Linked DNA regions of Homo sapiens: region 1 is linked to region 2. Evidence: fine-mapped expression QTL. A gene starts in region 2. The other region holds a variant in brackets. All regions are shown on one strand. Distances are from middle to middle.

The links.
Region 1: its variant is fine-mapped to the expression of CNOT1 in whole blood (TOPMed, PIP above 0.99).

What each region holds. Positions count from the first base shown.
Region 1 is chr16:58,549,193-58,554,570 of GRCh38, reverse strand. CNOT1 (CCR4-NOT transcription complex subunit 1) reads left to right here. Exons shown (of 49, transcript NM_016284.5): 22 at 711-789; 23 at 2,752-2,982; 24 at 3,299-3,439; 25 at 4,673-4,852. Among named protein-coding and RNA genes, the nearest start is that of SNORA46, 3.2 kb to the right of the region's middle. The variant G/T (reference allele first, on the strand shown) is at 3,106.
Region 2 is chr16:58,626,876-58,632,228 of GRCh38, reverse strand. CNOT1 (CCR4-NOT transcription complex subunit 1) reads left to right here and starts at 2,403. Exons shown (of 49, transcript NM_016284.5): 1 at 2,403-2,501. RefSeq lists enhancers at 1,536-2,025, 2,316-2,525, 1,974-2,649, 2,650-3,326.

The sequences.
Region 1 (5,378 bases), 78 kb after region 2:
TCGTACAGTAGAAGTCTTCCCTTTAGGTGTATAGTTCTTTGAATTTTGACAAATTTATACAGTTGTGTAACTACCACCACAATCAAGATACAGAATATTTTGGAACTCCTGGCCTCAAGTGATCTTCCTGCCTCCCACAGTGATGGGATTATAGGCATAAACTACCATGCCTGGCTGATGCAGAATATTTTCATTATCTCCCAAGAGGTTTCCTTGTTCCCCTTTGTAGTTAGTCCCCTTCCCTGACTTCCAATCTCTGATAATCTCTAAAGTTTTTCTAGAATGCCATTTACACAGAGTCATACAAATATGTAGTTTTTTGAGACTTACGTTACTACGTTTCAGTAGTCTGTTTTTTTTTTTACAGCTGTGTAGTATTCTACTATATGAGTTGACTACAAATTATTTTTCCATTCGTATGTTGGTGAAAATTTGAATTGTTTCCAGAGAAGTGGCTCGTTTTAATCTATTTTTAAGTAAAATATAGCCTTTAAAAATCAGAGGTAGTGTATTTTCTGATGTAAATCCTGTGAAAATCATAAGTATTTTCTCCTTCTATTTTTGTTTTCTTCACTTTGACATTTTCTTCAAATAAGTTATTCATAGGTAAGATGGAAAAAAATGACCTAGATTAGCATTTGGACAAAAACATTTTGTTAGTGATGCTTCTGTTCTGACATGAAATGATGGTAGAATAATTTTGTTGGCAGATTGAAGGACTATCCCCAGTATTGTCAGCATTTGGCTTCTATCAGTCACTTTATGCAATTTCCACATCATTTACAGGAGGTAAGTGCCCTCTGTAACTAAAACCCAAATAGCTATGTAGTATTTGGAGGGTTTAATATTTTGGCTTTTTTTTGTAGACTTGATAGTAATGGCATTAAGATTTCTTAATGATTGGCATGATATAGGTACACATATCTTTTGTTGAGGTTGCTCATTTTGTGGCCTTACAAGAGAACATGAAAAAATAATCATTCTTGGATTATCTTTTCTAAGTAGCAGGCTTACCTCAAAAACTTTTTACTCATTCTTTTAACCTGTAATGCAGTTGAAGAATAAACAGTTTTACTAAGAGAATCTTTATCTTAGATAAAGTACAGACACCCTGCCTGATGCTAAAAGGGAATTGGAGTGGGAATCTTGTGTATAAAAATCTGAAATTTTTGAGTTAATATGAGCCAAAACTGTTACACATAAGACTTAGATCATGTTTATTAAAAATACAGGCTTCTTACCACCTCGTTAGATTCCTTTGAGGTGTGGTTTTTGTTTTGTTTTTCTTTTTTTTTTGGGAGGGGGAGATGAAATCTTGCTCTGTTGCCCAGGCTAGAGTGAGGCAATCTTGGTTCACTGCAACATTGTCCTCCTGGGTTCAAGTGATTCTCCCACCTCAGCTTCCTGAGTAGCTGCGATTACAGGCACCTGCCATCATGCCTGGCTAATTTTTGTATTTTTGTAGAGACGAGGTTTCAACATGTTGGCCAGGCTGGTCTTGAACTCCTGACCTCAGGTGATCCGCCCACCTCCGCCCTGCAAAGTGCTGGGATTACAGGTGTGAGCCACCGCGCCCGCCTGAGATGCTTATTTAAAAGGAGTCAGTCCCTGGGAAAATAGACGTAAGGAATATACATTTTAAAAACCATTTTGTATGATTGTTATTATTACTGAAATTTGAGAAGCATTGTTTCAGTGACTGATTTTAGGTTAATTGGTAAGCATTATCTATACCTTTGTCTTGGTTTTGGTCAACATCAGTTTATATAGAACAGGAAAGTTGGTTAATTGACTTTATTTTTAACATGCAGTAGGCAACTTTATAAGATCTTATTTTAAGGAATCAGGAAGATCAGAATTTGAACCTACTTGATATTCTGTATTTTAATTTAGTTCAGTGTTCTCTACCTCATCCTTCTAGGTTTATTAGGAGGGCAGGGTTATTGTAATGACTTAATCTCTGGGAATGTGGAGTATATTCATTCAAGTGAGTGGATTGAGACAAATTAAGAGACAGGAATATAGAGCTTGAAAGACTTGGAGAAAGAGTGAGATGGCAGGGGAGTGATCACTCAAAACTAGTCCCTAGCACCCACTGTAGCAAGATAGCCAGAGAGAGAGAGAGATCATCACTTTCTGTACTTTATCAGCGTAAAGGGCTATACTTTCTTCTGAGACTCTTTCCTACTTGAGAAATGTCCCTCTAAAAATAAAACTGTTGCATACATAATTGGTAGGTTTAGTTCTGCTAGGTAAGGACTGTTGAAATAGCTTCAGGATCCTTATCACTCTAAATTGTGGGGATGGGCTATGTAAAGTGAGTTTTTTTTTTTTCGTAATAACAGCTTTATTGTGATAATAACTCATACTACCATGGTTTTTGTTTTGTTTTTTAAGGCCTTTGGTTTCTCATTGCTGCCTAATTAGAAAACAGATGAGTTTCCTGTATGAATTATTAAGACTTTTAAAGTTTGCGTTTTTAAAGAAGTTTAAAGGCATTTATATGCAGGTATCTGGGGCTGCTTCTTTAGAAGTTGTTTTGCTGTAGTTCTCTCATAAATACTAAGATTTTATCGCTGAAGTTCATGGAATCTACTTATGTATTAGTGCCAGGGTATGGGGCAAAGAGTATGTGAGCTAGATGAACCAAAAGAGCACTCAGACATGTTTTTTACCCTCTCAGAAAAGAGGGACGTATAATCCAGACTTAGCAATTAAGGTTAACTCTTTTTCCTCTCCCTACCCTTTTAGTATATTGAGTATGGACAGCAGTCTAGAGATCCTCCTGTGAAAATGCAAGGCTCTATCACAACCCCTGGAAGTATTGCACTGGCTCAGGCCCAGGCTCAGGCCCAGGTTCCAGCAAAAGCTCCTCTTGCTGGTCAAGTTAGCACTATGGTAACCACCTCAACAACTACCACTGTTGCTAAAACGGTTACGGTCACCAGGCCAACTGGAGTCAGCTTTAAGAAAGATGTGCCAGTAAGTAGATCTATCTTTTTTCTCTTCCAGGATTTATGATTATATTGTAATAATCAGTGGTGAACATGTATTAGAATTTTATCATAACACATGCCTACTAAAAAAGATATAAAAGACTGACAT[G/T]TCTTCCTTTGTATCTCCCATCCTTATATTTCCCAGAGGCAAACATATTAATAGTTCACTATTCTTGCCTACATTTCTAATACACAGTCATACCATGTGTATTTTTTAACACTAAATCTGTATACATTATTGGATTTTTTTCAGGGAAGCATTTCAACTTATTTGCCTTATGTACTTTATTTTTTTTTTTTAGCCTTCTATTAATACTACAAATATAGATACGTTGCTTGTGGCCACAGATCAAACTGAGAGAATTGTGGAGCCCCCAGAAAATATCCAGGAGAAAATTGCTTTTATTTTCAATAATCTCTCACAGTCAAATATGACACAAAAGGTGAGCATGCTGTCATAGTTTATAAATGCCTTCTTTTTTCCTTAATGGACTAAAGGATGTATAGTTGGCCCTTTTACATACTCACTTTAAAGGTAGAGGTAATAAACTCAAAGGGAATATGTATATTTAACTAGTGGGTTTGGTAGACATTAAATAGTACCAGTTTTTAAGGTTTTGTTTTGCAGCAAGTTATAAGCTTTTTGAAATAAGCTTAATGTTCTCATGGTGATAGAAAGTTTCATTTGTACTAGTCATTAGTCATACCTCATTTTCTCCCAGAGACTATTCAGAGTATTTATTACAACCTAATAACTGAGGCAAACTTTGTGAAAAGCATAAAGAATGCATGCTACTTGCCCCTCAGATTACATGGTAAGACAGTATAGTTGACCCTTGAGCAACATGGGCGTTAGGGTTGCCAATCCTGTATGTAGCCAAATCCTGTTATAACTTTTTACTCCCCCAGAACTTAACTGTTAACAGCCTACTATTTTTTCTGCCATGCAGAAGCCTTACTGTGATAAAACAAATAGTTGATTAACACCTATCTTATATGCATATAATACTGTATTCTTAGAATAAAATAAACTAGAAAAAAGAATAAAATAAACTAGAAAAACTATGAAGGAAAATTATAAGGAAGAAAAGATATATTTACCATCTGTTAAGTGGAAATGGATTATCATACAGGTCTTTAACTTTATATTTAATAGGCTGAGGAGGAGAAGAGGAGGTCTTGGTGTCTCCGAGGTAGTGGAGGTATTAATAGAAGAAAATCTACATTTAATTTTACTCTATGTAGTTCAAATCCTTGTTCAAGGGTCAACTAACTGTACTTGGAAACGCCAGAGTTAGCTAAGGATTCCTGTAGATGGAAATTTAGGAAAACATAGTTCTGGAATTTTCCCCATTCTTGGTTACACTGTAGGTATGTTAATGGCAGCTTATAGATTAGTAATTTATGTGGAGATGGGGTACTACATGTTTTATAATTTTAAAGCTGAAAATAGCCATAGATGTTTCAGTCCCAATCACGTATGGGTTGAGTTGTGATTGACTATGGAATTGAGCATACTTTTCTTCATAGCATCTATCTGGTGTGAAGGAAAGTCATTCTTTAGCATCTAGTTAGTTTTGCAAGGAGCCATGTGCTGTATAGTATGGTTCATAGAAACCAAGTGTTATTTTATCATAGTGTAATTCTGTGCTTCCCATGTCGTATTGACCGGCTAGGTTGAAGAGCTAAAGGAAACGGTGAAAGAAGAATTTATGCCTTGGGTTTCACAGTATCTGGTTATGAAGAGAGTCAGTATTGAGCCAAACTTTCATAGCCTGTATTCAAACTTCCTTGACACGCTGAAGAATCCTGAATTTAACAAGATGGTTCTGAATGAGACCTACAGAAACATTAAAGTAAGAGTTGGTTCTTATATTTCCTTTAATTATTGCTTTGAATTTGGAAATATTTGATTATATAGGTAGGATTTTTGCTATTTTTCCATATATATTGTCAATATTAGGTACCTCTGGAAATTGCTGTAGATTTTGTTTCTTATATGGAACTAAATTTTATGCAGAACTTAAATTTATAGGCATACCCTGTGCCTTTTCTTTGAAAGTAACCACTATTATGAATTGTTTTTGTCATGCCATGCATGATTTTAGAACTTTACCACTGTTATACATAAGCAGCATAGTATTGGTTAGCATATTCTGTATGGTGTCGCCCTCTGTACATCCTTTTCTTTTTTTTTCACTTACTTTTTTTTCTCCCCTGGATATTATTCATGATAATGATAATGCTCTTTGCTGTAGCCCCCTTTTTTTTTTTTTTTCAATTTTTTTGAGATGTGGTCTCACTCTGTTGCTTAGGCTGGAGTGCAGTGGCACGATCTCGGCTCACTGCAGCCTCCACCTCCCAGGTTCAAGCAGTTCTCTT
Region 2 (5,353 bases):
GCACTTTGGGAGGCTGAGGCGGGTGGATTACCTGAGGTCAGGAGTTCAATACCAGCCTGACCAACATGGTGAAACCCTGTGTCTACTAAAAATACAAAAATTAGCTGGGTGTGGTGGCACGTGCCTGCAATCTCAGGTACCTGGGAGGCTGAGGCAGGAGTCTTGCTTGAACTGGGGAGGCCGGAGGTTGCAGTGAGCTGAGATTGCACCATTGCACTCCAGCCTGGGCAACAAGAGCAAAACTCCGTCTCAAAAAAAAAAAAAAAAAAAAAAAAAAAAAAAAAAAAAAAGATGTGTTTTTAGGACATATGCTCAGTTAACTAGGCCAGTCACAAAAAGACAAATACTGCATGATTCCACTTATATGAGGTATCTAAAGTAATCAAACTCAGGAACATAAAGAAGAATAGTGATTGTCAGGGACTAGGGGGAGGGGGAAATGGAAGGTGTTAAACAACAGATGTAGTTTCAGTTTTGCAAGATGAAAAAGTTCTAGAGATCTGTTGTACAACAATATGCATATAGTTAACACTACTGTATTCTACACTTAAAAATGATTAAGATGGTAAATTTCATGTGTTTCTTACCATAATTTTTTTTAAGTATTTTTTTGGGCACGAGAGGTAATATGAGAGAGATGGCCAGAAGACCACCTACTGAGCCTAGTCTGAGGACAGGGGTGAGCACAGGGATAGGTTTGAATTTCTTTTTCTTTTCTTTTTTTTTTTTGGAGACGGAGTCTCGCTCAGTCGCCCAGGCTGGAGTCAAGCGGCGCGATCTCGGCTCACTGCGACCTCTGCCTCCCGGGTTCACGCCATTCTCCTGCCTCAGCCTCCCGAGTAGCTGGGACTACAGGCGCCCGCCACTACGCCCGGTTAATTTTTCTGTATTTTTAGTAGAGACGGGGTTTCACCGTGTTAGCCGGAATGGTCTCCATCTCCTGACCTCGTGATCCGCCCGCCTCGGCCTCCCAAAGTGCTGGGATTGCAGGCGTGATCCGCAGCGCCCTGCCTTTTTTTTTTTTTTTTTTTTTTTGAGACAGAGTTTTGCTCTGTCGCTCAGGCTGGAGTGCAGTGGCGCGATCTCTGCTCACTGCAACCCACGCCTCCCGGGTTCAAGCGATTCTCCTGCCTCAGCCTCCTAAGTAGCTGGGATTACAGGTGTGCGCCACCACGCCCGGCTAATTTTTTGTATCTTAGTAGAGATGGGGTTTCACCGTGTTAGCCAGGATGGTCTCGATCACCTGACGTCGTGATCCACCCGCCTCAGCCTCCCAAAGAGCTGGTATTACAAGCGTGAGCCACCGCGCCCGGCCTTAATTTCAAAAGGTAATAGAGCTAACCAGTCAACACTTCCTTCCCAATCCTTTCTCTTTTGGGTACAGGTGAGTATAAAATCTTACCAACTATCATAGTTAACAAACAAACCATAGCAAAATATGTTTCTATGCTTTTTCTCTTGAGAGCAAAGGACATGGGTATCCTTTCTTAGACGGCTTCTAGGACTTAAGCCAGGAAGAGAACTTGCGTCTCCTACGTCTCTGGAAGGCGTCTCTGGAAGGTGTCCCTTCTTCAATAGACAGAACTAAAACAGAAAGTTCCCTTGACCAAAGCGAAGCAAGCGAGGACAAGGTGGCCACCTGGGTGACTACAACCCCCAGCATGCACTGCTCCTTCTAGGGCGCAGCGACGAACGAAGACGCATTACTTCTGCGATGGGAACGGGGTAGAGGAGCGCGACTACACATCCCAGGATGCAAAGCGCCCCAACTCTAGTCACAACCTGGCTTGCTTTCTGGCTGGCGTTCCCCGCCAAAGGGACACTAGGGGAGGGGATTGTTTCGGTTGGGAATCCCCGAAGTCTACTGGACCGTGACATTTCGAAAGAGGAAGGAAAGTGGAGGAAAGCTGTTTCACTGTAATTCAAAGTAGTTCCCGCGCAGGGTGGCGAGGAGTTATGGGCCCCTTCCATAATTTATTGTTCCTCAAAGGCAATGCCAAGCCCCACTGGTCGCAGCCCTCCAGGGCAGGTGGGAAGTACGTGAAGCCCCAAATCGAAGTTATCAGCCTCTCCCTATTGGCCCTCGCCTCGAGCGCAGGCGCGAGGGCTCTGACTCCGGTCCCCTGGGCCTGGTGAGCGGCAATTGGCCAAAGTCCGCGAAGTAGGAGGCCGGATTGGTAGTTGCTAGCAGGAGCCTGATTTCTTCCTCGACTTCTGCAAGTGATAGAGTGTGATTGGTTTAAATCCGCGGGCACCTGTCGGTGATTGGGTAGAAGCCACAGGCGGGGCGCGGCCATTGGCTGGCTCTGGGGCCATCCCTCCTCGGGCGGGCAGCGAATGATGAAATGGGAACGGGGAGGGGAAAGGCCGCGACGTGAGCGCGCGACCTCCGGCGCCATTTTGTAGAGAAACAAGCGGAGTTAACCGAAGAGGGGGTCGAGGAGAGCCGGAGTCGGGGACCCAGGAGTTTCCTGTGTCCAGCGCTGCCGGAGCCGCCTGAGGTGAGGCGGGTTGGCGTCAGGGGCTAGGGTAGGGTGGCGGTGTCAGCTTGGGAACGCGAGAGCCGGTGGGAGGAGGAACAGGGGTGGACCTGGGGCCACTGGAAGCGTTTCCCGGAGCTCTAGGGAGTGAGAGGCAGCCGGGACGGGGAAGTGGGACGAGGCGGGAGAGGGCGGACTCTTCTCCACACGGCTCTCGGAGGCTTCGCGCTCTGAAGATGAGAGGCCAGCGAGAAGGCTCCAGGAAGCGGAGGGTAGAGCGCGGGGTGAGACCCATGGTGGTCTCTGTCCCGGGCCTGGAGGCTCAGGGGGCGGCAGCGGCGGCAGTTCGTGTCGCTGGGCCTGGCTTCGCGCGGGTTGCACCCCTCTGAGACCTCCACGACCTCCTTAACTACTGTTTCTGTCTCTGCTCCCTGATGGTTGCAGTGGGCATCGGCTTCCGAGGCCTAGGGCTTCTGGCGGGGGGGACCGTGTTTGGAGTTTTTGCATGTTTCCAGTTCTTCTCCGTGTACTCGGAGCTGCCACTCTCCCCGTCTTACGCCCCCAGCACGTTGTCAAAGCCCCCCAGGTTTCGGGTGTCCCCGGATGGGAAGGGCGGGCGGGAGCAAGCACTTCCTTATTACTTGCTACAGGTTTTGTTCCACTCGCGCGCCTGGGCGCTCACACTTTCTTTGAAGTTGGCCCCCACCTACTCGGTCCGGTGTCTGCAGTAGTGGCGGTCCTGCTCACCCAGGACAAGTGTCCCGCTAGTGAGCTGAGCACTTGTAGGCCTCAAGGCTGATAAGATCCACGGCAGGTCTTGTAGAGGTACTTAAGGCCAAACACAAATAATACTTTTTCAGTACCACCTCCTTTGCAGAATTCACCCAAGAGGGCTCACAGATACTAACTCCCCGAGGAGTAAGCTTTGTAGATTAAAAAAGAATGCTTGACATCTGTGCGTTTGAAAATGTTGTATTTAAAATAAACTTTATGACAAACTTTTCCCATGAAGTTAATCAAATGTCACATTTCTTAGGACTCTAATAAAGTCTGTTTTCTTCCTGAAAACTGAGTAACAATGCTTAACCTACCCTGCCGATTTCTCTACAATTCGATAGCCTGTGACTACTTGGGTTTTTTTTTTTTTTTAAGTCAGTGATTGAGTGAATATAATTATACTGTTTGAAACAATGCCGAACGTTTTCCTTATGACAGCCCCTTTGATAGGAATAGGGAATACATGGATTAAAAAAATGAGGGAAGGCAAGTAAAATATTAGGAGGAAGGTCAAACAGATTAAGAACAATTTTTTTCTATAGGTACTTGGGTTTAATACTTAAGTGATCTGTGGTCCCGGTTGGTATTCCTACCCTTTTAAAGATTGGCAGCAGAGTATTTTAGCTATTAAGAAGACATGTGGTAACAGTTTAAATAATTATGTTTTAGGATACTGCAAATTGTTACCTTGTCTAAGGAGAATATGCATTGATGATACATGGTTTTAGGTGGCTAGCTGTGCTTTGACTGAAATGATAGCATGTTGATAAAACTAGTTTGGAGAGTTAGTTCCTTTTCAACAAGTGTGGGTTCCCCAAGTCTTAGTGGAAACAAGTCTAGAATCGACTGGGCGCGGTGGCTCACGCCTGTAATCCCAGCACTTAGGGAGGCCAAGGTAGGTGAATCACCAGAGGTCAGGAGTTCGAGACCAGCCTGGCCAACATGTCACAACCGCGTCTCTACTAAAAATACAAAAATTAGCCGGGCGTGGTGGCAGGTGCCTGTAATCCCAGCTACTTGGGAGGCTGAGGCAGGAGAATTGCTTGAACCCGGGAGGCGGAGGTTGCAGTGAGCCGAGATAGAGCTACTGCACTCCAGCCTGGGGGACGGGGAGACTCCGTCTCAAAAAAAAGTCTAGAATGAAGGCGCAAAGACATGTCTATTTGTAACTGAAAATATTTCCTTTTCTTACCTAAGATTGTAATCTTAGAAGTTTTAAGGTACGGTTTTGTGGCATTACGGTGGAAAAGAATTGAAATGTGCTCTTTTTGGTTCCCAGCTTAACACCCCGGGTTCATTTTCTTTTTTTCTAGTTTCTGAATTTCTCTTCGGGGTTTAGATCCTAGTCTCTTTAACATAGATGTTGTCAAGCTAAATAATAAGACATCCTTCTTATTTGGAGTCAAGTCATTAAAAAAAGCTATGAAAACAAATGGAAATGCTTGCCATCTTTTCAAAACATGCTTTAAAGTCTGATTTCAAATTACCTTGCATGTTACTTTTTCTGAGTATGTTTTAGGATAGATTCTGATCTGGTTATGAGAAACTTTTTTTTTTTTTTTTTTTTTGAGATGGAGTCTCGCTCTGTCACCAGGCTGGAGTGCAGCAGCACACAATCTCGGTTCACTGCAACCTTTGCCTCCAGGGTTCAAGCAATTCTGCCTCAGCCCCTCGAGTAGCTGGGACTACAGGTGCCCGCCACCACACCCAGCTAATTTTTGTATTTTAATAGAGACAGGGTTTCACCATGTTGGCCAGGATGGTCTCGAACTCTTAACTTCATGATCCACCCGCCTCACCCTCCCAAAGTGCTGGGATTACAGACGTGAGCCACGGTGCCCAGCCGAGAAGCTTTCTTTTTAACCAGTTTGAATTTATGAACTTGATTATTTCTTTCTGTGTAATAACAAACACGTCTTTGGTACCCAATACCAGAGAATGGAATTTGTCCACAATAATTCTAATTGAGTGCTGTCATATTTTGGGACTAATTTTTTTGGCCCAGGCAAGTGGCTCAAGCCTGTATCCTAGCTTTTTGGGAGGATGAGGGAGGAGGATGCTTGAGACTAGGAGTTAGAGACCAGCCTGGGCAACAT